Linked DNA regions of Homo sapiens. The protein of the gene in region 2 purifies or fractionates together with the protein of the main gene of each other region. This does not show direct contact. Each region holds a gene or a part of one and is shown on either strand. Other genes may lie near its edges.

What was found.
Region 1: the proteins of HFE (region 2) and TAPBP purify together in Homo sapiens (co-immunoprecipitation; 2 studies listed by BioGRID and IntAct, with this or other methods). This does not show direct contact.
Region 3: the proteins of HFE (region 2) and ITGA6 purify together in Homo sapiens (co-immunoprecipitation; 2 studies listed by BioGRID and IntAct, with this or other methods). This does not show direct contact.
Region 4: the proteins of HFE (region 2) and SLC38A10 purify together in Homo sapiens (co-immunoprecipitation; 2 studies listed by BioGRID and IntAct, with this or other methods). This does not show direct contact.

Annotation. Positions count from the first base shown.
Region 1 is NC_000006.12:33,303,156-33,311,078, forward strand, and holds part of TAPBP (tapasin isoform 1 precursor), read right to left. Parts: intron 2,233-7,923; coding exon 1,834-2,232; intron 1,484-1,833; coding exon 1,142-1,483; intron 1,063-1,141; coding exon 973-1,062; intron 835-972; coding exon 800-834; coding exon of another isoform or gene 620-799; exon of another isoform or gene 451-619; intron 1-450. UniProt on the Homo sapiens protein: Involved in the association of MHC class I with transporter associated with antigen processing (TAP) and in the assembly of MHC class I with peptide (peptide loading).
Region 2 is NC_000006.12:26,089,925-26,097,847, reverse strand, and holds part of HFE (hereditary hemochromatosis protein isoform 1 precursor), read right to left. Parts: intron 7,126-7,923; exon of another isoform or gene 7,008-7,125; coding exon 6,744-7,007; intron 6,535-6,743; coding exon 6,259-6,534; intron 5,240-6,258; coding exon of another isoform or gene 5,207-5,239; intron 5,164-5,206; coding exon 4,888-5,163; exon of another isoform or gene 4,822-4,887; intron 4,730-4,821; coding exon 4,616-4,729; intron 3,663-4,615; coding exon 3,622-3,662; 3' UTR 3,445-3,621; coding exon of another isoform or gene 3,437-3,444; 3' UTR 1-3,436. UniProt on the Homo sapiens protein: Binds to transferrin receptor (TFR) and reduces its affinity for iron-loaded transferrin.
Region 3 is NC_000002.12:172,485,878-172,493,800, reverse strand, and holds part of ITGA6 (integrin alpha-6 isoform b preproprotein), read right to left. Parts: intron 6,779-7,923; coding exon 6,663-6,778; intron 6,538-6,662; coding exon 6,348-6,537; intron 6,255-6,347; coding exon 6,171-6,254; intron 6,074-6,170; coding exon 5,994-6,073; intron 5,841-5,993; coding exon 5,763-5,840; intron 5,676-5,762; coding exon 5,573-5,675; intron 5,263-5,572; exon of another isoform or gene 5,152-5,262; intron 4,317-5,151; coding exon 4,143-4,316; intron 2,778-4,142; coding exon 2,679-2,777; exon of another isoform or gene 2,581-2,678; coding exon 2,470-2,580; exon of another isoform or gene 2,377-2,469; coding exon 2,278-2,376; exon of another isoform or gene 1-2,277. UniProt on the Homo sapiens protein: Integrin alpha-6/beta-1 (ITGA6:ITGB1) is a receptor for laminin on platelets. Integrin alpha-6/beta-1 (ITGA6:ITGB1) is present in oocytes and is involved in sperm-egg fusion.
Region 4 is NC_000017.11:81,284,966-81,292,888, reverse strand, and holds part of SLC38A10 (solute carrier family 38 member 10), read left to right. Parts: intron 1-3,080; coding exon 3,081-3,198; coding exon of another isoform or gene 3,199-3,219; intron 3,220-5,539; exon of another isoform or gene 5,540-5,544; intron 5,545-7,923. UniProt on the Homo sapiens protein: Facilitates bidirectional transport of amino acids. May act as a glutamate sensor that regulates glutamate-glutamine cycle and mTOR signaling in the brain. The transport mechanism remains to be elucidated.

The DNA.
Region 1 (7,923 bases), 7.2 Mb from region 2:
CTGTAATCCCAACGCTTTGGGAGGCCAAGGCAGCGGGCGGATCACCTGAGGTCGGGAGTTCGAGACCAGCCTGACCAACATGGTGAAACCCCGTCTCTACTAAAAATACAAAAATTAGCCAGGCGTGGTGGTGGGTGCCTGTAATCCCAACTACTCGGGAGGCTAAGGCAGGAGAATCGCTTGAACCTGGGAGGTGGAGGTTGCAGTGAGCCGAGATCGCACCATTGCACCCCAGCCTGGGCGACAGAGACTCTGTCTCAAAAAAAAAGAGAAGGAAAAAAATCTTCAGGCCATGTGTATAAGGTGTATAGGAAACATAAATGATTTCTGTGTTTAGATTTGGGTCTGATCCCAAAGATATTAAATATATGCAAATATTCCAAAGTCTGAAAAAATCCAACATCCAAAAACACTTCTGACCCAAGCATTTCAGATAAGGGACCAGAATTATTAGATTAAATAAGGTATATTATTAAGTTAATTTTACCTGTTTCTGCTTATTTTTTTAATGTGAGTACTAGAGTATTTAAATTTACATATGTGGCTTGCATTATCTTTCTATTGGACAGCACTGCCTAAGTAACTTTTTAAAATCCCTACACCCAAGGAAACATATAGATTAAGTAGCATGCTCAAAGAGTCCTACAGTTAGGATATAGTGCCAGGTTTTAACCCAGATCAGTGTGAATTCCAAGCCTAGGTTCTGCCTACCACACCAGCAGCCTCCCTCCATGGGTTTTGAGATAGGATGAGGAGATAAAGTGACAAGGGAAAGATACAGAGAGGTGGAGCACTGTACCTTCTTTGAATCCTTGCAGGTGGACAGGTAGACAGCTGTGGGGAAAGATTGAGAAGGGATGGGATGCTGGAGTGGTAGAGGTGGAGGGCAGAGGGATGGGTGTCAGGCTCTTGGGAGTAGGTGGGGAAAGTCCACCAACCTCAGGTCATGGTCAGGGTAGGGCTGACACTTACCAGCCCAGCCCAGTGCCTTGAAGAGCCCAAGCAGAAGAAAGGCAGACAGGAAAAGGCCTACGCTGTCCTCAAGGGAGGGCCCTGAAAGACCTGGCAGGCAGAAGGGGTGAGAGTGAGCTCCTGTCTTCCTGGGTGCTGGCTCAGATTCCGCAGAGCTCCCAGCTCTTACCTGCTACCTCCAGGGTGACCTCAGCGCTGCGCCCCGAGGCAGGCAGGCTGGGATGGTGAATTCGACAGGCATAGCGTGCCCCATGCTGCTCAGTGGTGACTGGGGGCGGCTGCAAGTGCCCAGAGAGGCTGACAGAGCCATCGGAATGGTGGCGCAGGGCCGAGAGCCACCTCTGCCCCTCGGCCTTCTGAGAGCGGCCCCCTGGGCCACCCCGGAGTTCCCACTCCACCTCCAGGCCCCCAGAAGGGTAGAAGTGGGACACAAGGCAGAGCAATTCCGGGGGTGCCTCCCCTGGGGCGGCCCGTGCAAGGGTTGCTGGCATCAGGGACACTTTGGGGGGTTCTGGGGAAAGAGGACGAAATGAGCATAGGGAAATCAGTCCATACTGTCCTCCCTAAGAGACCCTCAGTTTGCCTGCTGGCTTCCTCAGAACTAAAGAAGGTTAGGTTTCTTCTCCTGAAATAGGGAACCCACTGTCTCTCCATTGGTGCGTCACAGAAATACCCATGTCAAAGCCCCTCAAATTTCCAGGAAACTTCTAGCCTCCCATTACCCCTCTAACTCCCAGGAACCTCTTTCTATCTCTACTTACTTGCCCAGGCACCCTCTTATCCATCATCCCTCCCCCTATTACGGTCCCCACAATCCAGTGCCCACCCTCTACCCCTGGAGACCTCTGTCCCCCAACTCACTGTACACAGCAAGCTCCAGGGTGACCTGTCCTTGCAGGTATGGCAGGTGTATGGTGGCCAGATAGGTGCCCTCCTGAAAGGGTTGAACTGTAGGCAGCCAGAAGGTCCCATTTCCGGTCCATGGGCCCCATGGCTCATCATCATCCCAAGCAGCAAATGCCACGGCCCCTTCTTGGGCTGCTGGCATCTGGCCATTCAGCCCAGGAGTTGCAGCCAGGAGCAGATGTCCCTTACCCAGGTGCTGGCGTCGCCACTCTAGCCCAAAGGGAGGGGGACCCGGAGCCAGAGATGAGGCGGCCTCGGAGGTGGGGGGCATGTAGGCAAAGCTCAAGTCCAGCAGAGCATCTTGTCCCAGTCTCACTCGAGGGGCAGGGGTGTGGGTGAGGACAGTCAGTACCACTGAGGAAGACAGGGAGATGAGGGGTTGGGAGGGGCATGAGGGAGAGAAAGAAGGAGAAAAAAATAGAGAAATGCAGTTATTGGGGAGGGCTAAACTGCAGTTTACCCACCCCTCAGAGGACACCTTTTCTGATACTCACCATTTCCTAGCCCTCCCTGCAAACTCCTTTTGCTCTGCGACTGGGTGGCACCTAGTGTGGCTGAGGGTGAGCAGAGAGGTCTAGGGGTGGTGAGTAGGGGCAATGAGGGGGTATGGCCTTTGAAGCCTACTCTGAACACATAGCACACTCTAGCTCGGGGGACTGCAGAATCCGAGGCCACTTCTGACACAACCTGAACCACTCTATCTCCAAGCACCACCCTTGAGGAACCAGGCCTTTCTTGATTACAGGCGAAGACAATGATTGAGCCATGACTGTCAGTCTTGTGGTGCTGTACAGAATATTTACTGACTCTAGAAGGTTCCAGCTCTAGCCTAGACCTGAGCACAGACCTCTATGCTCTACTGAAGCAGTACAGTGCAGTGGCTAAGTGCCTGGAGCCTGGCTGACCGGGTTCAAATCCCCTCTGCAGCTTATTTATATGGCCTTGGGCCACTTCCTTTTTCCATGGCTCAGCTTCCTAATCTCTAAAATTAAAAGTTGATGATAATAATAGTACCTACTTCATGAGGTTGTTGTGATGGTTAAATCATTAATACCTCTTGCTACTCAAGTCTATTCAGTTCCCAATTTTAGATAACAGAGACACCTACCCATGAAGGGTGCTTACAACACTGTCTGGAACACAGTAAGTCTACACGTGTTTGCTATAGTTACACCTAACTTAGCATACCCCAAGTCAACAGCATCTCTGCAACATTCCCCACCCTGCTCCAATGCCCATCTTCCCTGTCTTTGATGAATGATCACCAAGCCCGCCAGACACTAAAAGCAAACCCTTGGAGTTACTCAGACTCATTTATTCATTCAGCAACTATTGAGCACTGAAGATGTTCAAGGTATCCTGGTAGAAGACAGAATGGTGAACAAGACAAGCAGTCCCTGCTCTCAAATTGCCTATAGTCCAATGACAGACAAGCAAATTGTCAAAAATAATGTGCTATGTGCTATCCCCACCAGGACCTAACAGATCTCACATCTGTTTCCAATTTAGGTTCTCATCAATGTACGTTTAGACAATTACAACAGCCCTCCTGTCTGGTCTCCCTATTCTCAGTCTCTCCTTCAACTCCTTCTTCACACTGTAGCCAAACAAAGTGACTACAAGTCTGATCCCATCACCTACCTGTTTAAAAATCCCAAATATGGGCCAGACGCAGTGGTTCATGCCTATAATCCCAGCACTTTGGGAGGACGAGGCGGGTGGATCACCTGAGTTCGGGAGTTTGAAACCAGCCTGACCAACATGGTGAAACCCCGTCTCTACTAAAAATACAAAATTAGCCTGGTGTGGTGGCACATGCCTGTAATCCCAGCTACTCGGGAGACCGAGGCAGTAGAATTGCTTGAACCCGGGAAGCAGAGGTTGCGGTGAGCCGAGATTGTGCCATTGCACTCCAGCCTGGGCAATAAGAGGGAAACCCCGTTTCAAAAAAAAAAAAAAAAATCCCAAATACGGCCAGGCGTGGTGGCTCACACCTGTAATCCCAACACTTTGGTAGCCTGAGGCGGGTGGATTACCTGAGGTCAGGAGTTCAAGACCAGCCTGGCCAACATGGCAAAACCCTGTCTCTACTAAAAATACAAAAATTAGCCAGGTGTGGGGGCAGGCACCTGTAGTCCTAGCTACTTGGGAGGCTGAGGCAGAAGAATCACTTGAACCTGGGAGGTAGAGGTTGCCGTAAGCTGAAATCATGCCACTACACTCCAGCCTGGGCAACAGAGTGAGACTCCGTCTCAAAACTAAATAAATAAATAAAATAAAAATCCCAAATACCTAGGAAGTCAGCTGATAAAGGCATAGGCTGAAGCTATATGGCCTGGGTTCAATTTCTAGCCCTGCTTCTTTTTTTTTTTTTTTTTTTTTTTTTTGAGATAGAGTTTTGCTCGTCACCTAGGCTAGAGTATAGTGGTGTGATCTTGGCTCACTGCAACCTCTGCCTCCCAGGTTCAAGTGAGTCTCCTGCCTCAGCCTCCTGAGTAGCTGGGATTACAGGCGTCCACAACCGTGCCCAGCTAATTTTTGTATTTTTGGTAGAGATGGGGTTTCACCATGTTGCCCAGGCTGGTCTTGAACTCCCGACCTCAGGTGATCCACCTGCTTTGGTCTCCCAAAGTGCTGGGATTACAGGCATGAGCCACCACGCCTGGCCTCTAGCTCTGCTTCTTACACACTGTGTGTCCTTGGGCAAATTATTTAACTGGTTTGTGTCCTATATTTATCCATATGCAATACAGGGATAATATTAAAACCTACAACCTATGGTTGTTGAGAGGAATAAGTGAGATTATGCATATAAAGTGCTTAGAACAGGGCCTGGCATATAGAAAATACTTGATAAATGTTAGCTGTTACTATTTTCATTACCTTCATCACTATCATGGACTTGCTGGTTAACTTGGAAAAATCATTTAACCTGTATTTTCCTCACTAGTCCAAAGATCTGACCTTTGCCTATCTTTTAAAAGAATCAAGTAAAATAACAGGCTTTTTCCGGGCATGGTGGCTAACACATGTAATCCCAGCACTTTGGGAGGCTGAGGCGAGTGGATTACCTGAGGTCAGGAGTTCGAGAGCAGCCTGGCCAACATGGTGAAACCCCATCTCTACTAAAAATACAAAAAAAAAAAAAAAAAAAATTAGCGGGGCGTGGTTGTGGGTGCCTGTGATCCCATCAACTTGGGAGGCTGAGGCAGGAGAATTGCTTGAACCCAGGAGGCAGAGGTTGCAGTGAGCCAAGATCACCCCATTGCACTCCAGCATGGGTGACAAGAGTGAAACTCCGTCTCAAAAAATAAATATGTACATAATAAAAACAGGCTTTTTAGAATAACACGCCCTCCAAAAGAACTTCTGATGGTTCGCTCTCACCTACAGAACAAAGCCCAGCTTTCAAGGTATTTGAACATTCAGCCCCTAACCCACCCTTCCAGGCTTCTCCTGCACCCTACAAACCAGCCACATAGAACCCCTTTCTTGTGCCTAGTAGAAGTGGTCATCATTGGTCATCTCTTTGCTTTGGTCATGAGGTCCCTTCAGTTTACATTGTCTTTCCCATTTTCTCCCAAACATCTATCAAGCTTGTCCAACCTCCAGCCCAGGGACCACATGCAGCCAAGGACGGCTTGGAATACAGCCCGACACAAATTCATAAACTTTCTTAAAACATTATGAGATTTTTTCACATTTTTTTTTTTTAGCTTATCAGCCATCGTTAGTGTTCGTATATTTTATGCATGGCCCAAGACAATTCTTCTCCCAGTGTGGCTCAGGGAAGCCAAAAGATTGGAGACCCCTGATCTAAATACTCCATGTACATGAAGGTCACTTTCACTGCTGTTTCTTCCCAGAAATGTCTAGGTCCTTCAGGTAGAAGTAATCTTTTTCTTCTTGTAATTATTTTTATGTTCTTTTTAATCCTAGCTTCTGAGGCCTATAAGGTTAAACTGTTCTCATCTTCATGGAATTGTTCAGTAGAGTAAAAACAGTATGCAATTTCACTTAGTTTGTCAAAATCCAGAAACATACTTTTGAATTGTTAAAAAAAAAAAAAAAGATCCACAGGCTGGGCACAGTGGCTCACGCCTGTAATCCCAGCACTTTGGGAGGCCGAGGCCGGTGGATCACCTGAGGTTGGGAGTTTGAGACCAGACTGGAGAAACCCCGTCTCTACTAAAAATACAGAATTATCCGGGCATGGTGGCACACGCCTGTAATCACAGCTGCTTGGGAAGCTGAGGCAGGAGAATCACTTGAACCTGGGAGGCGGAGGTTGTGGTGAGCCGAGATCATGCCATTGCCCTCCAGACTGGGCAACAAGAGCAAAACTTGATCTCAAAAAAAAAAATCCATAGAATTAATAAACAAAACCTGGCTGGGCAGGGTGGCTCAGACTTGTAATCCCAGTACCTTGGGAGGCTGAGGTGGGAGGATCACTTGAACCCAGCAGTTTGAGACCAGCCTGGGCAACATAGCAAGACCCCATCTCTATTTAAAAGAAAAAATTTAAAAAAATAATAAACAAGACCTAAAGGTTTTACAGTTTAACTCTTTTTTTTTTTTTTTTTTTTTTGGAGACAGGGTCTCACTCTGTCACCCATCAAAGGTGCAATCCTCCCAACACAGCCTCCCGAGTAGCTGGGACCATAGGTACATGCCACGACACCCAACCTTTTTTTTTTTTTTTTTTTTTTTGAGACAGTTTCACGCTTGTTGCCCAGGCTGGAGTGCAGTGGCATGATCTTGGCTCACTGCAACCTCCGCCTCCCAGGTTCAAGCAATTCTCTTGCCTCAGCCTTCCGAGTAGCTGGGATTACAGGCATGCACCACCATGCCTGGCTAATTTTGTATTTTTAGTACAGACGGGGTTTCTCCATGTTGGTCAGGCTGGTCTTGAACTTTCGACCTCAGGTGATCTGCCCACCTCGGCCTCCCAAAGTGCTGGGATTACAGGCATGAGCCACTGCGCCCAGCATTTTTTTAATTTTTAGTAGAGACAAGGTCTGGTTATGTTGCCCAGGCTGGTCTTGAACTCCTGAGTGCAAATGATCCTCCCACCTAGACCTCCCAAAGTGCTGGAAGTACAGGCGTGAGTCACCTCACCTGACTCCATAATATTTTAAAAGAATGGTGAGAATTAAACACTATACACACAAAGTATATTAAGAAAGTATAGGCCTGGCGTGGTGGCTCACGCCTGTAATCCCAGCAATTTGGGAGGCTGAGGTGGGTGGATCACCTGAGGTCAGGAGTTCAAGACCAGCCTGGCTAACATGACCAAACCCTGTCTCCACTAAAAATACAAAAATTAGCTGGGCCTGGTGGTGGGCGCCTGTAGTCTCAGCTACTTGGGAGGCTGAGACAGGAGAATTACTTGAACTCAGGAGGCAGAAGTTGAAATGAGCAGAGATCACACCATTGCACTCCAGCCTGGGCAACAGGGTGAGACTCTGTCTCAAAAAAAAAAAAAAAAAAAAAAAAGTATATTTGGGGCCAGGCAGCTCACACGTGTAATCCCAGCAGTTTCGGAGGCCAAGGTGGGCAGATCAATTGAGCCCAGGAGTCCAAGACCAGCCTGGGCAACCTGACAAAAACCCATCTCCACAAAAAAAATACAAAAATTAGCTGGGCATGGTGGCACATGCCTGTGGTCTCAGCTACTCAGGAGACTGAGGCACGAGGATCACTTGAGCCACGGAGGTGGAGGTTGCAGTGAGCTGAGATCATGCCACTGCTCTCCAGCCTGCACTGCACTCCAGCCTGGGCGACAGAGGGAGACCCTGTCTCAAATAAATAAATAAATAAGCATATTTGTCAATAAACATTTAAAAATATTTGATAAGACAAGTATAAATGTATATTAGCAAAATCATGAATGATCTTGGACCCTGGAGAGATTTCATTTCTAATTTTACATCAGTACAACAGCTTTCATTTTCTTAAATCCCTGATCAAGCAGAAATGCTTGAAAAGAAAGAGCACAGCAGGCCGGGCGTGGTGGCTCATGCCTGTAATCCCAGCACTTTGGAA
Region 2 (7,923 bases):
TTTGTGAAGAATGTTTTATAAAATACTGACAGTATTATAAGATGACATTATTATAATACAACATAAGAATTTTGGCCTGTACCTCTCAGCAGTCCTCAATCACCTGCTGTACTTGACTCAATGATTATCAGAGTGGTTTGTTTTCCTTCTGTTGTGTTCCCAGTTCAGGCAGCTCAGCAATGGCCTGTGATTCCAGCAATTCAAATAGCTGGTAAGTAGTTTCTTGTTTGTTTTCTCAAATTTTCAGGGGCTTTTCTCTACAAGTGATTTCCAGTGCACGCCCCTCCACCCATTCTTTATTCCTTTACCTTCAGGAAAACCCTCAGCGCTGCATCTCTGGTCACCGGACCACCGTGGTACATTTACCTATGGCCACCAGGTGTCACCCTTCTCTTTACTACCATGGTTTGTGAATGGTTTTGCCAGAGGTGAATAAGAATTTAAAATGCAGGTCTTTGATTTTTCAAATGTAGTTGACCTTAAGAATTTATGAATAAAGCCAGAAAAATTAAGCTTAAAAAACACCGAAAGAAAATGAGGACTTAAAATTTCTATTAAAAAAATTAACAGGCCACAGTTGCTGATGTTTAGTAAATGTGTTAGTGAAATGTGTTACTGTGAAGACTGGGGTGTTTCTTGAAATCTCAGCCCAGGTGAAATAAAACCAATATAAAACAAATGCTTACCTAATAAATTAATTGTAACATATTCCTTATGAGGTAGAAGAGTAAGTGAAGCCTTATAGCAGTCTGCTTTCAGTATAGTAAGATATTAAGAGAGAAATAATTTGTCATATGCTTTCAGAATGGTTTGCTGGTAAAATAACCAATGTCTTACAACTTAGACGACAATGTCCCTAGAGTGAAGAAACACGATTAATTCGGCTACCACAGTTGAATGAAAATATTCCGTAAGACAAAATGTAAAGAAATTAGAAGCAAAATAAATGTCTCCAAAATGACAAAGCGATTAAGTATATACACAAGATGAACAAGAACTTCAATAAAATCATGCAGTATACAATACAATATACATTTATTAAAGTATATGCATTTTTAATGCAACAATAATACTAACAGGTAATAGACAAGTTGTTAATAGTTTTTCACTGGCTAATTAAATAACAGCTTTAATTGTATTCATTTTATAGCTTTTCTACAATGAGCGTAAATCACATTTACTTTTTTCTACATAACTTTTCTAACCACAAAAAAAGAAAATGGTTTAAAAGAAGAGATGAGATATCTTTGCTAAAATTTAATGCCTAAAGAAGAAACTTCTGAGCTGTATATGGTATCCTGAAGCACCTGCCCTTCAAGACAGAATGCTTGTACCACATTTATGCAGCCAAGTGCATGTAGTAACATAAAGTAAACACATGCCATCTGGATATATATATTAAGACTCTTTTGACGGCTGGGCAGGGTGGCTCACACCTGTAATCTCAGCACTTTGGGAGGCCGAGGCAGGCGGATCACGAGGTCAGGAGAGTTCGAGACCAGCCTGGCCAACATGGTGAAACCCTGTCTCTACTAAAAATACAAAAATTAGCCGGGCATGGTGGTGCACGCCTGTAATCCCAGCTACTTGGGAGGCTGAGACAGGAGAATCGCTTGAACCTGGGAGGCAGAGGTTACAGTGAGCCGAGATCATGCCATTGCACTCCAGCCTGGGCAATAGAGTCTCAAAAAAAAAAAAAAGACTCTTTTGAACATGGTGAACTGATTTCCCAGAATCTAGCAATTCCTGAATGTCCTGGTTAGATTTTTTTTTTAATGTGCACCGGAACCCCAGTGGCTCCATGGAAGGACCTGGGCATCCTCTAAGCCACTTGGTGGCTTCCATTATACCATCTCAAAATGAGAGAGCTTACTCCACTTCATTGAGGGAAATACCACCAGAGTTCTGACTCCAGAGGCACTGGCCTAGGGAGGACACCGTGTGTGAAGCCCAGCAGGGCCACTAGCTGTCCCCACCAATTACAGTCCTTGCGTAGGGTCCAAAGAAATGAATGCCAAAGAGAGCAACAGAGGAGCAAGGGAGTCACATTCCAGGACCTTCCTTCAGGGACTTTTAAAGGAAACATGACAGCTGAGGATCAGTTGGTTGTTTTCTGCTGTTCCCCTTCATGTGATTCAAGCTCACTCAGAAGAAACACAATGAGACAAGAGAAGAGCCATCTCCTTCCTTCTCTATTTATTCTAGGCATCTAAACTACTGAATGTAGTGGTGTCTGAGATGTATCAAACGGTCAGATTGACTGAGTTTGAAACCTGTTTCTATCACTGACAAACTATGAGATACTCTATACTTCACTTTCTTTTTTTTTTCATTTTTTTATTTTTATTTTTATTTTTTTGAGATGGAGTCTCACTCTGTCACCTAGGCTGGAGTGCAGTGGCGCAAACTCGGCTCACTGCAAGCTCTGCCTCCTGGGTTCATGCCATTCTCCTGCCTCAGCCTTCCGAGTAGCTGGGACTACAGGCGTCTGCCACCACGCCCAGCTAATTTTTTGTATTTTTATTAGAGATGGGGTTTCACCATGTTAGCCAGGATGGTCTCGATCTCCTGACCTCGTGATCCACCCGCTTTGGCCTCCCAAAGTGCTGGGATTACAGGCGTGAGCCACCGTGCCCGGCCTACTTCACTTTCTTCATTTAAAAAAGAAATGGGGATAATAGTACCTATCTCATAGAATTATTGTAAGAAGTGCATGCAGTAATGCATGTAAGTAGGTGCTCAGAAGAGTCGGACACGAAGTAAGTGCTTTTATCATCCTTATCATAATTTTCATTATCAGAACAAGGAGAGACCAGGTAGAAAATTATTGTGATTCTTCAGGTCTGGAATACTAGAGTAGCATCCCAAATGAAGGCACCATTAAACTTTGCAAATCTGTATGACACCTTCATGCCAATTAGAAAAAACACCTCTTCACAACCCCTTTCAAGATATTTGCCTCCTACCTGCTAAAAACACCCATCATACTACCCACAGATAGCCATGATGCTTTTTCTGGGACAGGTGCCTCTTCCATTCGTGCAGTGTACAGCCTTCATAGCTGTGCAACTCACATCACAATCAGATGGAAGAATCCCCAAGGCTTGGTGACAGATGAGTTACTGGGTAACACAGAGAGAGGATTCAAAGGAAAAGTTGAACGGGTCCAGAAAATGCATAGATACATGTGTAAAAATCTGGTAAGGTTATGACTAGCCACGTCCCAGGGTTCAAAGCTTTTCTCAGATGTTAAAATGAATCATGTAAGTCCCCCAAATTTAAGGAGTCCTCTTCCAAAAATAGGAAATGAAATGACATAGGTGTATGTCTCTGAGGTGACGGAGGAAATGAAGGAAGCCTCTAGATGCAGCTTGAGGTTCATGAGAGACAGTTCCAGGGGAGAGGTCACAGCTAGGGATCACCGGCATGCAGGAACTCAGAAACCTAAATGGGGAAATCTTTTTGAGGAAATGAACAGAGAAGGCTAAAATCAAGGAGTTCGTCAGGCAATTTCTATGTTTAGGTTCAACTCTCTCCTGAAACATGAAGAGCTCATAAATGCACTCCCTCTTTGAGTCTCTAGTTTTGTCTCCTTCCCACAGTGAGTCTGCAGGCTGCGTGTCACTCACGTTCAGCTAAGACGTAGTGCCCCATGGCTCCTCCTGTGGAGACAAGAGACCCAGGAAAGAGGCATCACAAACCTAGGCACCATCTTGCCTCTTCTCTCTTCCTTATTTTCCTCATTCACCCATCTCAATTTAGACCTGGGCACTATTGGATTTCAAGAACCATTATCTCTCATCTGGAAATGCTTATTGGCTTTCTAACTGGTCTCCTCACCTCTCATCTAACTTCTTAACAACACATTCACCATATAAGGGAGATCGTGGTCCTCCTTTCTTAGGATCCTTCAATGACACCCCAGTGATCATAACCCAATATCCCAAAAGACCCTTGGACTCTGTATGAGCTGGCTTCTTTCTGATTCTCTTTTCCCTACACCACAGATGTTCAGGGGGTAGAAATGCATAATTGGTGAGTGATAGCTACGCAAACTCAGGGTTAAGGTACAGTAATTATTTCTAATCTCCCAGTATGCCTTATACTCTCCTACTTGGCATGGTTGCTCCGTCTGTGTAGACCTCCCATCATCTTCAACCTCACCTAATGGAATCCAGCTTCTCCTTCAAGATCCAGAAGGCTATCTTGATCCCCAGCTGAATGTGATCATTCTTTCCTTTGACACCCTAAGCATTTGCTTCCTGCCTGCTTTAGGACCTCATGGGGTCTTCTTTAACTACATTTACTTGCTATCAATTTCATTCCCTACCAGATTTGGGTTCTGAGAATAGCCACAGTGACTTCTCAACCTCAAAGCCCCTGTACTACCTTAAACAGCTCTTGCAAAATAGTAGGTGCTCTGAAGATGTTTGTTGAATTAGAGACTTTCATTCTGGGGAGAACCATTATTTTCTGTCTCCCAGGGAGCTGCTGGTGTCCCCAAAGAATATAAATGAGAAAAATGCTTCCCATGGATGCCAGATCCCCTCTGCCCCTCTTCCCACTGTGCCCTGGGGCAGAGGTACTAAGAGACTTCCCCCTTGTTCCTACTCACTTGAACCCTGCCTCTTCCTTAATATTATGAACAAAATTCCAATGAACAAGATGACGACAAAAACAGCAATTCCACTGATGACTCCAATGACTAGGGTGCCAGACGGTGAGGGCTCTAAAACAGAAAAAGCAAGTTAAAGCCTTTGATTGCCACCCTCAGCCCACCCCCTAACAAAGAGCAGATCCTCATCTCACTGCCATAATTACCTCCTCAGGCACTCCTCTCAACCCCCAATAGATTTTCTCAGCTCCTGGCTCTCATCAGTCACATACCCCAGATCACAATGAGGGGCTGATCCAGGCCTGGGTGCTCCACCTGGCACGTATATCTCTGCTCTTCCCCAGGGGGTACAGCCAAGGTTATCCAGCCCTGGTAGGTCCCATCCCCATTGGGCAATACGTCTTTAGGTTCGAACTCCTTGGCATCCATTGGCTGCTTATCCTTCAGCCACTTCATGGTGATGTTCTGGGGGTAGTAGTTCAAGGCCCGACACCGTAGAGTGGTCACTGAAGAGGTCACATGATGTGTCACCTTCACCAAAGGAGGCACTTGACAGGAAAGAGGAAGGATGAGGAGAGGGGATCTGTTTACCCTTGCCAGGAAGACTGGAACTTTCACTTCCTTCTATAGGTTGGAGGAAGGAAATACCCTTTTCAGAAAAAAACAAGCTACAGGAGAGACACCATTTTGTGTCCTAAGATTGGACTCTAACACAGTGTCACTTGGAGAGCAGTCAGATCAGCTTGTTCTCCTCACATGTAAATATACATATCTGTTACCCATGTTCTTTGTTCTGATAGATAAAATTGCCCTTTATGTGCATTGAAAATGATTGAATACAGATGGTCAGTTTCACCTGGGTCAACCTAGGAGGCATTGTTATAAGAAGCGGACTTGTAAGATAGGTAGCTTCAGTGATTATTGCTATGTTCTATGAAAGAAACTTTTAACCTAAAGGATTCTTCTACTCTGATAAGTGGCCTCACTTGATATTTTGTCCTGGTATTCATATGATAGCTGAGATCTCTGAATTCTCTTTTTTTTTTTTTTTTTTTTTTTAAGATGGAGTCTCACTCTGCTGCCTAGGCTGGAGTGCAGTGGCGCGATCTTGGCTCAGTGCAACTTCCGCTTCCCAGGTTCAAGCGATGCTCCTGCCTCAGCCTTCCAATTAGCTGGGACTACAGGTGCGCATGACTGTGACCAGCTAATTTTTGTATTTTTTTAGAGACGGGTTTCACCATGTTGGTCAGGCTGGTCTCAAACTCCTGACCTTGTGACCACCCGCCTCGGCCTCCCAAAGTGCTGGGATTACAGGGGTGAGCCACCGTGCCCGGCCTTGACATTTCTGAATTTTTAACAGGTATAAATATACAAAAGATTATTGGTTAAATAAAAAGCAAGGGCCATAGACACTTCCCTTTGAGCCATATGCATGGAGAAAAGAAATTAAACCCATGACTTGTGGCTGTCTCATACATCTCAATTATAAGGTAGAGACTCTAGGATTGAGAAAGTCCCTTCCCAGAATTTGGAGAGGCACACAGCCTCAGCCACCTCTGAAACTCCAACCAGGGATTCCGTGCCCTGCAACCTCCTCCACTCTGCCACTAGAGTATAGGGGCAGAAGTGTGTTTCCACCATACCTTGTTGGTCCAAAACACCTCTCCCCAGCTCCAGCAACTGCTGCAGCTGTGCAGGGCAGTCCCTCTCCAGGTAGGCCCTGTTCTGCCTGGCCCGAATCTTGTGCCTTTCCCACTCCAGCTTGGTGGGCCAGGCCCTGGGTTCTGCTGCTCTCCAATCCAGTGTGTCAGGGCAGAATTCAAGGTGGTCCTGCCCATCATACCCGTACTTCCAGTAGCCCTCGGTACTGTTGTCTTCTTGCATTTCACAGCCCAGGATGACCTGCAGGGTGTGGGACTCTGGAAAAATCCCCAGCCTTGTTAACTGCAACCAAAGGAATAGGTCCCTATTTCCACCATCCCCAAGGACCAAATGATCTCAGGAAGCAAATTCCTTCCCTCTTCCCTGCTCCCACAAGACCTCAGACTTCCAGCTGTTTCCTTCAAGATGCATGAAAAGATGAAAAGCTCTGACAACCTCAGGAAGGTGAGGCCCCCTCTCCACATACCCTTGCTGTGGTTGTGATTTTCCATAATAGTCCAGAAGTCAACAGTGAACATGTGATCCCACCCTTTCAGACTCTGACTCAGCTGCAGCCACATCTGGCTTGAAATTCTACTGGAAACCCATGGAGTTCGGGGCTCCACACGGCGACTCTCATGATCATAGAACACGAACAGCTGGTCATCCACGTAGCCCAAAGCTTCAAACAAGGAAAGACCAAGGTCCTGCTCTGAGGCACCCATGAAGAGGTAGTGCAGAGAGTGTGAACCTGGAGACAGAGCAACAGGCCTTAACCATGTGTAGTAGGAGGGGAGCAGGATGTTGAGGCTCCACACACCTGCATCAACTCATACCATCAGCTGTGTCTGGTCCTCATTTTGTGAAGGGTGAGTTGCAGTCCTGTCTTTCTTCCATATGACAGTCCTGGGTGCTCTTTCCTTGTGTGCTTTTCTCTGCCACACGTGGCTGCCACCCCCTCACTGCCCCCAGATCCTATTCCAATACTCATGATTAGACAGACTCCACTAAAGCTGGTGGATTCTAGAAAATGTTAAGGTGTGTCTAGCCATGGTAGTTGAACTCAGGAGTTGGTGCTCAGGGCAAATTAGACCCAAATCCTGAGGAATAATTCCTTCAGTTTTTTTTTTTTTTTTTTTTTTTTTTTTTGAGACAGAGTCTCACTCTATCACCCAGGCTGGAGTGCAGTGGCACAATCTCAGCTCACTGCAACCTGCACCTCCTGGGTTCAAGGGATTCTCCTACCTAAGCCTCCTGAAAACCTGGGACTATAGGCGTGCGCCACCACACCAGGCTAATTTTTGTATTTTTAGTAGACATGGGGTTTCACCATGTTGGCCAAGCTTGTCTCAAACTCCTGACCTCAAATGATCTACCTGCCTCAGCCACCAAAGTGCTGGGATTACAGAAGTGAGCCACCGTGCCCAGCCTTGGTCCTGAATTCTTACACTGAACTGCCTATGTGGCCTCACCACTTGGAAGCCTGACTGGAATCTCAAACTTAACATGTCCAAATGCAGATCCTTGATTTACCCCAAACTGCTCTTTCCTCTGCCTTCACCATCTCAGAAATGGCATTGCCAATTACCCCACTGCTCAGGCCAATAAAATTAAAATAAAGAACAAAGTCAACTTTAACTCTTCTCTTTTTCAGGGGGTCAGGGGAG
Region 3 (7,923 bases), on a different chromosome or scaffold from region 2:
AGACATCAGACCCAAGGTCTGGTCTCAGCTCTACTTGCTGGTCGGGTGACCCTGACGGGGAGATACCTTTCCTTGGATTCAGTTTTCTTATCTCAATTTGAGATTTGGGGACTTTAAGGGGACCAAGTGCCACAGAGTCAAAGAACAGAAGCCCTGAAGTCAGACAATTACAGGTTTCAATTGAGGGTCTCAAATTATATCCCCTCTCTGAGTCTGCTTCCTTGTTTGTAAAATGAGTACAATGTTTACCCTTGGCATTCTTCTGAAGTTTGAATGATAGAGTATAAAGTATCTAGTAAGCTGCAGACATTTTATTAAGGCTTCATTAATGTTAGTCCCTTCCCTCTAAAGTGTTCTCTGTCTAGCTCTGAAATCTCAGTGATTTTCAGAGTTGCTGATTTACAGTTATAGAAAGCTATACCTGCTGCCTTTATAGATGCAGAGAAAGGATCCTTAGGGAAGGTGTGGTTTATTTGAAAGTCCCTTATGATGCCTGTTGATATGTCCTGGAGAGACCGGGACAGTGCTGGTTGATACCACTTATCGCAGCAGCTTGCCCAGTACAGCATTTGTCTCAGGCAAATGTATCCTGGGGCTGGGTGCAGTGGCTCACACCTATAATCCCAGCATTTTGGGAGGCTGAGGCAGGCGGATTGCTTGAGTCCAGGAGTTAAAGACCAGCCTGGGCAACATGGTGAGACTCTGGCTATACAAAAAAAACTGAAAAATTAGCTGGGCGTGGTGGCATGCCTGTGGTCCCAGCTACTCAGGAGGTGAGACAGGAGGATTGCTTGAGCCCAGGCATTCAAGGCTGCAGTGAGCTGTGTTTGCGCCACTGCACTCCAGCCTGGGTAACAGAGCAAGACTCCATCTCAAAAAACTAAATAAAAACAAAAATGTATTCTTGCTTGGATAATAAATCGTAAGGACTGCTATATTTCAGAAAACAGAATGATTAGGGAGGCTCCCTGAATTTTCAGCTAGCTAAATGACTGAAGCCAGAACATTTCCATAAGTAGACTGGCAGATTAACTTAAGAACAGTAATTCACAGTATTTCTTTCTCCAGTCTCTTTTGCAAAACATTCCCATTCATTATTCCCACCATGACATGCAGTCATTCTGCCTCGAGATCTTTATACAAGTCCCTGTGGGTTCTAGACTCCCACAGGGAACCCCTCACTATTGGTTCACTACAAGGTTCTACACCTAGTCCTATTCAACATATTTGTCATTACCTGGATGAAGACATAGAGAACATGCTTCTCAGTTTTTAAAACTTTCAGGGATAGAAAGTTGAGAAAGCAAATGATGAAGCAAGATTCAGAATTACTTTGCAAACTGAAACAATGGACCCAAAGCAAATCACATAAAATGTAAGGATACACTTAAAGGCATACATTTAGATTTTTACAAATAGCTCAAGGACAGGATACTGGAAACACAGCTTGACAACAAATTCTGATGAAAACACCTGGAAGTTTCAGTAGAACACTAACACAAAAATAGCAGCTGCTAGAAATTCAAACATGCTGCTCAGCAATGGTTTGAAAAAGCAAATTTTAGGCAGGTCTGACAGAAGTGTGGTGCCGAGATGCTGAGAGGTAAAGGCCCCAGGGTAAGTGGGACCAAGCAGACCCCACCTCAGCTGCTCTGTCCACGTGGGAATCAAATTGCCCAGGAAGGGAGAGGCCAGGAGCCAGTTCAGCTGTGCCCAATGTGACGCATAACTCAAGAGCTGGGTGCATAAGCTCTGAGAAGAATAAGAAACATCCAAGGAGGCATGACCATTTCCTTCAATTATTTGAGAGGCTGCTACATGGCCAAGAGAGAGAACTTATTTTAGACTTGTTTGAGGGGCATAACCAGGGACTTACAAGGTTCAGTTCAGGAGTCAGCTATGAAGAGATCTTTTTTAATAATTACAGCTGGCCAAGGGATGGGCCATCACTGGGGCATTACACCAATGGCTGCAGCATTAGAGATGGTAGAAGACACAGGTTTCTAGAGGGCTGTGAGGTGCACCCATTCTCTGAATTGAGCCAGTAGTTCTCAAACCTACCATGGGCACTGCTGAACTGGATGACCCTAGATTTACTTCTTTTTTTCAATGATTCTATTAAAATACAGCTTGCAGTGCCAGTACCTTAAGACAGTTTTCTCCGTAATGGGGCTATGAGGGAAATGAGCACCAAAGCACATGACTTCAGGACATGAGTGTGGGGTACAGGGAAAAGAGACATGTTCTGAACCTGAATGAAGCTGGGGAACCTCTCACCTGAGTGCCTGCATTTGGCAGCCTGATATTTTCGGCAGCAGCAGTCACATCAATGAAGGCTCGCATGAGAATGTCCAAGTAGTTCAGTTTGGAATATTCCTGTTTGGAGACAGTGAATGCATTAGGGAAGTGAAAAGTGTCCTAGGCAAAGGCAAATTACTTCCATGGGACAGCCTCAAGCCAAGGTCATACCTCTAGAAATGTGCTGTTCCATAACCTCGAGCGCAAAATAAGAGACGCCTTGCTGTCCAGCCCCCGCAGCGGGCATCTGATGTTCACACAGTTCACGTTCACGCTACAGTTCTAGAGAGAAAAAGAAGAATGGTCATCAAAAGACATTGTTCTGAAGAAATCCTTCCCCTCATCCTCTCAAATATTCACAGCTCTTGAAAAATACTTACAAGAGTCTGGTATTTTCTTTCAGCAAATAAAGAAAATTTTCTGTTATCATCTATCTGTTTTTCAGTAATTTCCCGTTTCTTTCTTGAGTTGTGAGACTCCTGAAAAAAATTATATCCAAAATAGTTCCAATTTATGTAATTCTTTGTCATTACCATACAAGCCTCTTGAGCATATCCTCCCAAACAGTGCCAGATTCACATAATCAACAATATTTGCCTCTCTCCTGCCAAAGGCACAGAAGTAAGTGTAAAACCAGCAAGTATTATCACTCTAAATTCAAGTTTATTGATTTACTCATAGGACTAAGTAATTCATTCCCACTCTGACCTTAAAACTCAGAGAAAGAGAAATATGCTTTCTTTGTTCCTCTGTATCCCCACCAAACTGTGGGCATACTGAGATCAGAGATCAAATCTTATTCCTGTATCCCTAGCCTCCAGCTCTGTTCCTAAAACATGGTAGTCAGCACATCTTGAAGGAATAAGTGACACTGAAGAACAGAGAAAGAAGCAAAAAGACCCATTATATAGCTCATTCAGAGCAGAGCAATGAAAACTAAGCCATACAAGAACTTTTAAAATTGCATTTTCCTTATAGCAAAGATTAGTAATAACCGATTATCTTGATTTTTAACATTGATGAGTAGAAGATCATGCTATAAGCCACCAACTCTGATCACTGATCATACCCAGTCACCTTAGAATTTAAAATAAAAGAAATAAACATGCAAACCTTCATCAAACTGGAACACAAATGATAGGCCAGTTATCTAAGCATGGAGCAGTATAGAGAGAGGGGTTAACAGTACAGGCTTTGACATCAGGCAGAGCAGGGCTTGTATGTGGAATCTGTCTCTTAACGCCTGAGTGACTGAGAGAGTTACTTGCTCTCTGAATCTTAATGTCCTCATCTGTGAAATGGTGAGGATAATGAAACGCCCTCATAGGACCATCCAGAGAATGAAATGAGAAAATGAAAACAAAATGCTTAGCATAGTTCCTGAGACACAATGAGTACACAATAAATAATTACTATTTTAAAAATAAGCATAAAAAGCTTTCAAGGTTACTTGCTGAGATGCCATTATCTTTTCCAATGAGTTTGGTTCTACTTGGAGTGAACACTGGCTGGCCCCTGGATAACAGCAGCTACTATTACCCCAGGAGCATCCCCCAGTTCTCCTTATTATGTAACATACTGGGTCATGATGAAACATCAGAAAATACCATTTGCCTCAGCAAGCACTGAATGACTCTGCCTTATGTACTATAATGGTCATTAACCAGCAAAAATGCCTCAGCCTCCCTCAGTTACCCAACTAGAAAAGAGAAATTGTGACAACCAAAGAGAAAGTCAACCTGCCAGAATATGCCACTTTCCTAAGAACAGTAATGATTTTCCCCTAACAAGTTAGTTTCTCTAATTTGCATTTATGGAGACATTAGATAAATCTACCGACATACCGTTAGGTTCAGGGAGTTTATCTCCTTTTGTGGCTCACAAGTTACCTTTTCCAATCCTTTGGATTCTACTTTCACCAAATAAAGCAACCATTTCCCATTGCTAATTTCTTTTGGCCACTGAATGTTCAAGGTTGCTGTGCCGAGGTTTGTAAGAGGTTTACCTAAGTTTATTACCTGTTAGAAAATAATACATATTATCTCAGTCTAATCTTCTCAATGTAAATTTAAGTAGCAGCTCCTTTTACCAAGAGAAAGAAGCTAAAATATCTAACGTAATCCTATAATAAAAGCACAGGCTCCAAAAATGGACTATAGATAGGGCATTCAAAATAAAGACTTGTGCCTAAAGATTTTTGTAAATAAAAACAAAAAGGTCAAAGGACAACTGATAGCTAACTCGTTCTAGGAACAACTGCTGTATGCAACAGAATCAGCAGTGTAGATATACCATGTTCTCAACATACGCCCAGGGAAAATCATGTGTGAATTTGTGAACTGCCCTGTAACCACCCTGCTTGGCCAATGACAAGTCCTGGGCCAAGGCAGTGTACCAACAACCTGCTTCTGGAAAACCCCATCCACTGCAAAAATGAAGCTGCCTCTGTCCCAGAGGAGATTCTGCAAAACCATTATTAGGACAGCCATGAATCTGAGAGTCCAAGCTGGGAACAGAGTGACGTCCTGCGGCAGAAGCCAAACACAGGAGGTAAGAGCCCTCTTGGTGTCGAGACTGTTCCAGAACCCAAAGACTTCTTTTCCAGCTGCACCTGCATAGAGATCATAACCACCACCACCACCTGCCCCAGCTGTGTCTATAATGCTAAGAGACACACAGAGGAGAATTCAGCCTCTTCATTCTGCCGGAGTCAGGTGGGCCCATGCTTGCCATTTGAGGCTTTCACCACAGTGGTCACTATGCCTTCAGGAATGTGATTTCAGCCACACAGACCTAAACCCATGTGTGAGTTACGAACAGACTCTGTACCCTATGTTTATGTTTATTCAACAGGACAGAGAGTCACTGTGATTGCCTACTTTGAAATGGTTCAGAGCCAGTCACTGCCTTTCCTACAGGCATATACCAAATCTACATTCACCACAAAAACTGGGCTTGTGAAAGGTAGGCATACATTAATATTCTTTCAACCACAAGCAGTGAGAAAGATGACCTTATAAAGGAGGAAGGAATAAATCATAACGCATTCTAAACTGAACTGGATTCTGAACAGTGACAATTGTTCTCCATCCTGGAGGATAAAATTTTTACTATAAGCCAGTATGTTCTTTAAAAGCTGGCAAACTAATTTTTAACTCATGATTTACTTACAATGCTTATTAATATTGCTGATTTATTAAAATGACATACTCAAGACCATACCTAGTATATGTCAGCTTTTGGTATAATGAAAAGACCAACTGCTCCAACTTACCCTGAATTCATACTCTATTAAACTTCCCACTTCATCTTCAGATTTCATAGCTTGCTCGCCAACAACTGTACCTCCAAAATACACCTGGGAAGGTTTAGCAACTCTGTCAAATTAAAAAACACCAGTTTTAATGAGGATTGTAAATGGTTCTTTCAAACATTGATTTGTTATGCTAAACACAAACACTTACCCCGAGACCGATAAAAGCAGTTCAATAACCACTTTTGCTTTAGCTGTAATTGGAGCCAAATTATCTTGATTGCTTGTTCTGAAAATGAAAAGGAAACAATAGGGTTGTATTTTACCAGTCAGTTTTCTCACTACAATTAGACTTCTTTTATGAGGTAGATCAGGGCCAATTCATTGACTGCCCATATTTTCATGAAATAATTCTGAATGGAGAGGTTGATGTAACTCTTACGTTTCTAACTTCAGATTAATATCCAGATCTGGGGTGTCAAAGGTGACTTCAGTTGTACTTAAAACCAAATAAAAAGTGACCTAAAAAAACATAAATAGCTGTTAACACAGGCCATGCATACAGACACTGCAATGGTATTTAAAACAGTAAAATACAGTATATGAAGGCATCACCTACATTTGAATTTCTTTTAAAAGGATTTCCGAGCTCACAGTCAGCTTGCGAGCCATTCTGGTTGGCAACACAACTCAACTGTTTCTCCTGTAAAAGAAACACACGCTAGGTCACAATCCACTCATTTGCCACACAGTGTTGATTTTTTTCCCCTCTCAGCTGGTCTCTAACAATACTTACAGGGAAAGCCCTCAGTTCTCTATATGCAGAATAGGTTAAAGTGTCTGGAAACGTTGCAATCAGTTTAGCCTCATGGGCGTCATCGCCATCTTTTGTGGGATTCCTTGGGTTGGAAGGGCTGTTTGTCACTGTTATTTCTAAAGCAATATCCTTCTGATCTTTTAGAACTAGTTCTGGTACACCTTTTTGACTATTAAAAATAAGAAAACAAGAACAAAAAGGCAAAGTCCTCAATACGTTTCCAGTAAACTTTCTTAACACAAAGCCACCATGAAGCCAGAATCATTTTTGCTAGTGCTACACAACGATTCTTACATTGGTAAATAAGAAAATTTGTCTTGATTTCCTTCTCGGGTGCAAAATTTATATTCTAGTTTAAGGTTGCTGTTACATACATTGTCGTCTCCACATCCCTCTTTTAAGAAGTGAACCTGTAGGAAAACGAAAACTATTGTCAATTTACACCATTCAGGACTCAGGAAGGCATCGATGTAGGTGACTGGCTATTCCACACAGTTCATTTCCCTGTGTGACAATTACCAATGCAGAATTCAAGCTTTAAATGTACTTTGCCACACATCAAATTTCCATTCTGTCCTTTAGTAAAATTGTGTTTGAAGAACACTTTGACCAGGGCATGGAGGCAGTGTGGTATAGAAGAGTGTGACCCAGCAGCCACACAGATTTGGGTTTGAAACGCAGCTCTACCCCTTACTTAGCTAGCAAGTCACTTAACCTTTCAGAGTCCAAGTTTCATCATAGGTAACGTGGAGATACCACCATTCTAACTTTATAGGGCTACTATAAGAAGTATCAATAATAATGATGATACCAACGATTATAATACTCGATTTACATATCTTAACTCATTTAATCCTCACAACAGGCCTCTAAAAAGATACTATTATTATGATCTCCATTGTAGAGATGACGAAACAGAGAGCTTAAGGTCAGGTAAGCAAACAGCATACTAGCACCATGCCAATGGGTTCTTGATAATCACACCGATAAATAGAAAATCATCTCTAGCTATGGAGCTGGGAATGTACACAAGTAATATTAACATGATAATAATAAAAGTACATAAAAGTATACAGAAATATAAGGAACTATATTTGGTGACAAAAATGATTGACAATATGCAGATGTAAGCATCAGCTCCTGAGACAGTGAGGACTCACTTCTGCAAAGCTGCCTCAGTAAGGCACCAGTACCAGCAGCCCCATAGTGGACAGACACTCATCATCAATTAGTTGTTTTTTTTTTTTTTTTTTTTTGGAGATAGAGTCTTACTCTTTTTGCCCAGGCTGGAGTGCAGTGGTGCCATCTCGGCTCACTGCAACTCCACCTGCCGGGTTTAAGGCATTCTCCTGCCTCAGCCTCCTGAGTAGCTGTGATTATAGGCATGCTCCATCATACCCGCTAACTTTTGTATTTTCACTAGAGACGGGGTTTCACCATGTTGGCCAGGCTGGTCTCAAACTCCTAACCTCAAGTGACCTGCCCGCCTCGGCCTCCCGAAGTTCTGGGATTACAGGCATGAGCCACCACACCCGTTCATCATCAATTAGATTTT
Region 4 (7,923 bases), on a different chromosome or scaffold from region 2:
TACAGGCGTGAGCCACCGTGCCTGGCCCCAAATGCTGTCATCTTTGATGCCTGTCGGTGAAGTGCCACCGTGGAAGGGGCTCTGGTTTAGACACCTGTGAAAGTACATCTTAGGGCCCAGACGATCCAGCTATCTCGAGCCTTGGACCACCTGCCATGTGGTGGACATTAGGCCCCTGCCAGAGCATGTGCTGATTAGCCGGGCATCTGCACAGACCTGTCAGGAAGTGAAGGACTAGAGACGTCCTTCTGAGTCCTGAGGGCTGCCCAGAGGGAGGCCCAGTTGCTCTGATCTGGCCGCAGCGTCTCCTCCACGGCAGCCTTCTTGGACTGGGGCGCAGGGAGACGCCAGCAGGCGATTTGGGGATGTGTGTGTTTAGTGTTTGGCAGCCTTGGCATTGAAAAACTTTGGATTAGTGTTTTTTTTTTTGTTTTAGTAGTTTTGATATATTTATATATATACATAGCTGGGCGTGTTGGCTCACGCCTGTAATCCCAGCACTTTTGGAGGCTGAGGAGGGTGGATCACGAGGTCAGGAGTTCAAGACCAGCCTGGCCAAGATGATAAAACCCCATCTCTACTAAAAATACAGAAATTAGCTGTGCGCGATGTCAGGCGCCTGTAGTCCCAGCTACTAGGGAGTCTGAGGCAAGAGAATCGCTTGAACCCGGGAGTGGAGCTTGCAGTGAGCCAAGATCGCGCCACTGCACTCCAGCCTGGGCAACAGAGTGAGACTCTGTCTCAAACAAACAAAAATATATATCTATATCTATATCTAGATAGATATAGATATAGATCTATATAGATTATATATATAATAAACATTGAAGTTTGACATACAAAAATGTGTACACACTTCTTTAGATGTGCTGTTGATGAATTTTCATATGACGAGCAAACCCGTGTGACTAGCTCCCAAATTAAGGAGCGTACTCTGTGGCCGTGGCGGCCTACCCGGGGCACACTGCTGACCCCTAGTGTGCCACGGTGGTGCTGCCTGGTTTGAACTGAGGTGGGTGGGTCCTGCTGTGCAGGTGTCTAGTGCGAGTGTCTGGCTTGCGTTCTGGTGTCCGCTGCACCGCCATGCGTGTCTGTGTGTAGTTTACCCCTGTGAGGCATTTACGGTGTCTCCTATTGGGAGCTCTTGTGATGCCCTGAGGAGTTGGACAGGCGTTGGCAGGGGGTGGTTTCTGCTGGGTGCGTGCCTGTGTGGAGTGGCCGGGCCCCAGGGTGCGTGTGCTCCGCTCTGGAGCTGCCATGTGGGTGCAGTGGTGCACATGCCGGCCCGCATCCCCGGTAGCATTGGGTATCGTGTCTTTTCCGCTGGAGCCATTCTGATGAGTGCTTGGTGATATCTCATGAGTTTTTGGTATTAATAGACTTACTTTTTTTTTTTTTTTTTGAGATGGAGTCTTACTCTGTCACCCAGGCTGGGGTGCAATGGTTCAATCTCAGCTCACTGCAACCTCCACCTCCCAGATTCAAGCAAGTCTCCTGCCTCAGCCTCCTAAGTAACTGGGATTACAGGCGCCCACCACCAAGCCTGGCTAATTTTTTGTGTGTGTTTTCAGTAGAGGTGGGGGTCTCACCATGTTGGCCAGGCTGGTCTCGAACTCCTGACCTCAAATGATCCACCTGCCTCGGCCTCCCAAAGTGCTGGGATGACAGTTGTGAGCCAGTGTGCCCAGCCGGACTTATGTGTTTGAGCAGTTTTAAGTCTACAGAACAACAGACTGGAAAGTGCAGCGCCCCCGCCCCCCTCACCGTCCAGCTAGGTTCACGTGACTGACGTCTCGCACTAGTGTGGCGGTCCTTGTGTTTTAAGTGTCACCTCGATGGAGGTAGTGGACATGCAGGAAGATTCACTCTCTTTTTATTTTCTCGAGGCGGAGTCTTGCTCGGTCGCCAGGCTGGAGTGCAGTGGCGCAATCTCGGCTCAACTGCAACCTCTGACTCCCTGGTTCAAGTGATTCTCCTGCCTCAGCCTCCCAAGTAGCTGGGATTACAGGCACACACCACCATGCTCAGCTAATTTTTGTATTTTTAGTAGAGATGGGATTTCACCATGTTGGCCAGGAGGGTCTCGATCTCCTGACCTCGTGATCTGCCCACCTCGGCCTCCCAAAGTGCTGGGATTACAGGTGTGAGCCACCGTGCCCGGCTGATTGACTCTTTTTAGGGTGCAGGTCATGGGCTTGCTGTGTAACCACCACAGTCAAACAGAACACACAGCTTCATCCCCCAGAGGGTCCCCATGTGCCCCTTTGTCATCAGCCAAATCTCCACACCCCCAGCCCCTGGCAACACTGAGCTGTTCCCTGGCCTAAAAGTTTGCCTTTTCTGAGTTTCCTGTAAACAGAATGACACTGTTTGTAGCATTCAGAGTCCAGCTTCCTCTGCTCAGCATGGTGCGTTTGAGTCCCATCCGTGTCATGGTGGGTGTCAGTAGTCATCCCTTTTTCCTGCTGACTAATATTCCCTTATTCGAATGGACCACAGTTTGTATCCATTCGCTTGTTGAAGGACATTTGGGTTGTTTTTCCATTTTTGGGTTGTGGATAAACCTGCTGTAAACATTGGCATACAGGTTTTTCATGAACACGTTTTCATTCCTCTTGGTAAGTGAATACCTAGGGGTGCAGTTAATCCCCAGGTCACACAGTAAGTGTCTATTTAACTTATGAGAACGGGGAAAATGGCATTTTTAATCTCTTCCAGAATGTGTTCATTACTTGTAGCTGTGGACTTAAGTGGCTAAAGATGGTGCATGTAGGGTGTGTGCAGAGAACAAGGGGGTATTAGTTGGCAGCACCCCGCTGTCCATGAAGACTTGAGGTGGGGACTGGGAAGGAGATGGCACCCCTGTGCTCTGCGCATACAGCTTCATCCCTGGACAAGGCGCGCGGCCACCACAGCAAGGAAATGGCCCTTTCAGTGCTAGGAAGTGTCGCGTTCGGCAGGAGACTGGGATGGAGCGGGGCCTGGGGGTGAAGAGGGTCCTCATGAGCCGCGTGTGTGGGGTGAGGGCCTCTGGGGAGCACCTGCTGCTGTGAACATGTGTTCCTGTCTCCACCCTGCAGTGCGGCATCGTCCTGGGGGCGCTGCTCTTGGTCTTCTGCTCATGGATGACGCACCAGTCGTGCATGTTCTTGGTGAAGTCGGCCAGCCTGAGCAAGCGGAGGACCTACGCCGGCCTGGGTGAGGCGCCCTCTCCACAAGGTGGCTCTGGACCTGGGGCGGGGGCCTTATTCCATTTATTTATTTATTTATTTACTCTACTTGATTCTTCAAGAATTCCTTGGATAGCAGGGTTTTTTTTATTTTAAAATGTAATGCTGCAAAAAAATGAGCCGGGTGTGGTTGCACGTGCCTGTCGTCCCAGCTACTATTTGGGAGGCTGAGGTGGGAGGATCACCTGAGCCTAGGAGTCTGAGGTGGCAGTGAGCTGTGATCACGCCATTGTATTCCAGCCTGGGTGACAGAGCGAGACCCTGTCTCAAAAGAATTAAAAATCAAATTAAAAAAAAATGCAGTTAAAAAAAAAACCTGCCGGGCGTGGTGGCTCGTGCCTGTAATCCCAGCACTTTGGCAGGCCGAGGCAGGCGGATTATTTGAGGTCAGGAGTTCGAGACGAGCCTGGACAACATGGTGAAACCCCATCTCTACCAGAAATACAAAAAATTAGCCAGACATGGTGGCAGGCATCTGTAATCCTAGCTACTCAGGAGGCTGAGGCCAGAGAATCTCTTGAACCCGATAGGTGGAGGCTGCAGTGAGCTGAGATCACGCCACTGCACTCGAGCCTTGGTGCCAGAGTGAGACTCTGTCTGGAAAAAAAAAGAAAAACCTGTTATAATCACATGCTTCAAAATTGGAGTGACACAGAAGGGTATGAGGCGCCAGGTCTCCCTGTCACCATGCCCTCCTGCCCGCTCCCATGCAGGTCCACACAAGCTTCCTCTTCTAAACTCAGACCAAGACAGCCGTCCTCACCGTGCTGGTGCAGACCTGCTCTCTCTGTGTCTCTCCTGGACACCAGATGCCTTCCTGCGGAGCTGCCTGCAGAGAGCCTTGCTGTTCTCCCCAACTCGGAATTCCATGGAGGAAGCTCCTCAGGCCTGGGCTGTTGCTGGAGTTCAGTGGCTCCTCTCCCAGTGGCTGTGTCCTTCCCCTGATGCTGTTGGTTGCAGTTTTGTTTCCCTTAGTTCTTTCTTGCTTTAATGCTGTTTCAGCCAGGAGAGAAGGCTGCGCTTTCTGCTTCATTTCAGTGTGGAATATTTTCTACGTTGTTTGTCTTCGAGGGCGCCATCCCTCACCTTCCCGTCTGCCCACAGGCTGTGTGGCCCGCGCTGTCTCCCTGCCCGCCACAGGCTCGGCACCTCTCGGCTCCACGTTCCATTCTGGGGGCATCCAGCCTGGGTGTTGAAATTCCAGCATCCGTGTTCTCAGGAGTTGGCCCTGTGGGTTTTGGTGAAAACTCTGGCCTTGTGATGAAGGCTCTGGACCTTCCAGCCAGTGTGCGGCTGGGATGTTAGGTCCTCCCTGCAGAAGGCCATCCTGCCCCCCGGGCTCACAGCTCCCGCGGCAGAGTGAGGAGGTGGCGGGAGAGGAAATGGTGTTTAGGGGTCCAGGGGGCCAAACAAAATAAAAACACCTGCACGGTCCACACGTGGGTCCTGGCCTCCCAGCCTCCACTTCCTCCCAGTCCCCTTCATGTTGCCACAGAGAGTCCTGCGTTCGTTTCGGCCCTCAGAACCGGAGGGGATGTATTCCTTCTCCTCCCTTCCTGATGAGAATGGTGCTGTCAGAGTCTTTTCTTGTTGTTATTTGAGGAAGTGAAGTTCACTGTTAAGTTTGATCCACAGTGAGATGGCCTAATGCAACTTGGGCTGAAAGATGCCTACCGGATGCCAGGAGGCACCGTGCCTGGGCGGGCCCCTTCCTGGGTCTGCAGAGCTGTGGCCTGCAGGGCGACCCTTTTCTCCTCACTGAGGTCTCTGTATAGGGTTTCTGTAGCAGAGGCCCCAACTCCAGTCCTTGGCTGTGTCCTGGAAGAAGACCGGTGACCCAGGGCTGGGGAGGCCCCCATTTCTGATAGCCAGCTGTCTATTCATTCAAAGTCCCTGAAAAGTCAAACCAGTTTGGCTACATGTGAAGGACTGGAAGAAAATTGCCGGGTGGGTGCTCTTCTGTGCTGCCTGGAACTCCTGCCTGAGCTTCCAACCTTTACCTGCATGGGGTGACCGCAGTCCACTTCTGCCTGCCAGAAACAAAAAAGATTCCAAAACACCAAGTGTGTCTCAGGTTATGCCTTTGACACCAAACACGGTGGTTCCACTGCGTGAGCTCCGGACAGAGGCCCCTGGGCCCAGCTGCTCCGCGTCAGCTGCAGTGTGCCCTGGCTCGTCTTAGAAGTGGGGAGACCCGCGCTGGGAGAGGCGTCCCTGGGGAGGGTAAGATGAGACTCTCCTGGAGCTGAGGCGAGGCCCTTGTGCAGAGTGGACAGCAGCTCCACACTGCAGTCTTCAGGAGGCGCCGGGCTGGGTCCCGTCCTCGCACACAGACTGACTTTCCCTGGGACGGCTGGGTGGTTTCCTCCGAATGGCATCTGCCCCCACCCAGGCATAGGTTTGCGGTGTAATGGTTCCTCGGGTTGGTTAGCCTGGGGAGGTGGCCGCTGATCGCTTTACCCTCCCCGCTGTCCTCCAGTGCCATGTGCCAGCCTGGAGAGGTGTCGTTTTTTGTTGGTGTTTGTATATTTCCCTGTCCTATTTGCTGTTGCTGGTTGCAGGTGGTTTTTGTCGTTTTCGTCACCTTCTCACTTGCTGCTTCCTTGCCCTGCGTGTCTTGCTTGGACATGGACTTTTCTAAATCCCCTCTTCAGAAGACACACAGATACATCAGTCATTCAGCCTCCTTCAGCTGTCGCGGCTTCTCATGAAGCTGTTCTGAGCCCCAGACCCTGCCCTGTTGAGAGTTGTGCCTGAACCCTGGCATGCGTGGTCTGGGCTAGAAACCGCCTCCCCCAGCAGCAGGGACTGTTTGGCCCCCACGCGGCCTCTGAGTTCTCGGTTGTGAGCAGCGGTGTCAGGAGTGCTGCCCGCGTCCTTTCGTTGGGTGGTCCAGGCTTCTGTGGCTCCTGTGCTGGCTCTGGGGGAGATCTGACTGCACCTGGGGTAGGGTACACCCTGCATGGAGGCCGCGCCCTCAGAGCTCGCCGCTCACAGATACCTCCAGCCTGGCAGGGGCTGGGCCCGCACTGGGAGTCCACACTCGGGGGAGGGCTGGGTCCCCGGGACCTTGCTGGGCGCTTCAGCCTCTTCCTCCCTTTCTCTGTGCCAGTCCACGCAGGATGTGAAGGAGTGGGGTCAGTCCAACTGGGGCTGGTGTTTGAACCTGGGGAGGAGAAGTTGCCGAGGGATTGACACTGGGAATGGCGGGTGAGGGTTTGGCCCAGGTGGGGAAAAGAAGGCGCGTGGGGCCGTGTCTCAGCGTGGTGGGCTCTCAGGACGTTGTCCTGGGAACCAGAAGAGAGTGCTGCCCTGATTTCCTAGACAGCCTCCCATTTTCCCTTGCCAGTGGCAGGCATATTCCGGAACCTTCTTGGGCAAGGTGCGCTCGTGTTTGGAATATGCTGTAGAGACTCAGCTTCCTTTTGGAGAATGAAAAGGCACATTATGGCCAGGAGCAACTTCATGTTTGGAGCGCCGTGTTTTGTTGCTTCCGGGCTGTGCCGTCACTGAGGGGTGTGGAGGGCGTTCCTTGGTGACAGCAGGGCCCTGGGCTGTGGGCTGCTGAGGGGGCTCCTGGAGTTCTTAGTGTTTGAAACTCTCCACAGCCTCAGGTCAGCTTCTGGGGCCTGGCTCGGGTTTCCGTGTTGTGGGATGAACTCAAGGGGTGCCAGGCTTCTTCAGCGAGCCCATAGGCAGGTCCAGGAAAGGCCAGGGTGAGCCCTGGAGGTGGGGTCTTTGCTGCTCCCGGGCTCTGGCGTTTGGCAACGCTGTGCTTCTTCCTAAGTAGTTTAAAGTAATAAGGAGTGTTTTTTGGACCCATTCATAGTTACTAGCCTGTGTGTTTCCTGCTTTCCAAAGCTCATCAGAGGCCTGTAGCCCGTGGGAGGAAGGAAACCAGGGGCAGGAAGCTGGGGCTGCCGACGGGGCTGGGCCATCCTGCCACATGCACCGCATCTCTGGGTGCGCCTTGGAGCCGGGACTTCCCTTTGCCCTTCTCCGGCTGGGCCGTGGGGGAAGCGCGGGGGTCACCAGATGACCGCTCGGGGCCTGGGAGGGACCCTGCTGAGTCAGCGCCGTTTCTCATCTGCTGCAGAGAATCCCGCGGTCAGGGCGGAGAGAATGGCGGCTCCTTCCGCATTCGGCCGCCCCGTCGGGAACGCATGCTCCTCATCGGCAAGGCTCCTCATTAGCTGTCCACGTGGACACCACAAGCCCAGGGCTCTCGTCCCCTCCCTTCCTGAAGCACCATGCTCGAAAGGAGTCTCCATTTGTTTCTATAAATCCCAACCAAAGGGTGAAAATGAAAGCCCTCCGTCAGAGTCCCTCTGGTGCAGGCTGTGGCGCTCGGGTACCTGGGACCGGCACTGAACCCTCTGGGGACCTGCAAGCTCTGGCCAGCAGCACGGGGTTCGGCCGTGCTGGGCTGTGGGATGCTGTTTCCAGCCGGCCCCCAGTGGTCACCGGGTGGGAGGACTGCATCGCAGGGACTTGTCTCTTTGTCTGTTAAAAAATCTGATTGAGTGAAAGAAGAACCTGCCTCCTGTCCTTCCCTTGCTCTGTCTTTGTTTCTTGTAGTTTCATTTGCAGACAGTAGATCCAAAAATAACCTGGCAGCCAGAATTTGAAATACCCCTCATGCCCCGGAGAATCTGGGCCCGTGGGTTTCTGTGAAATCGCCCTTGACAGCTTG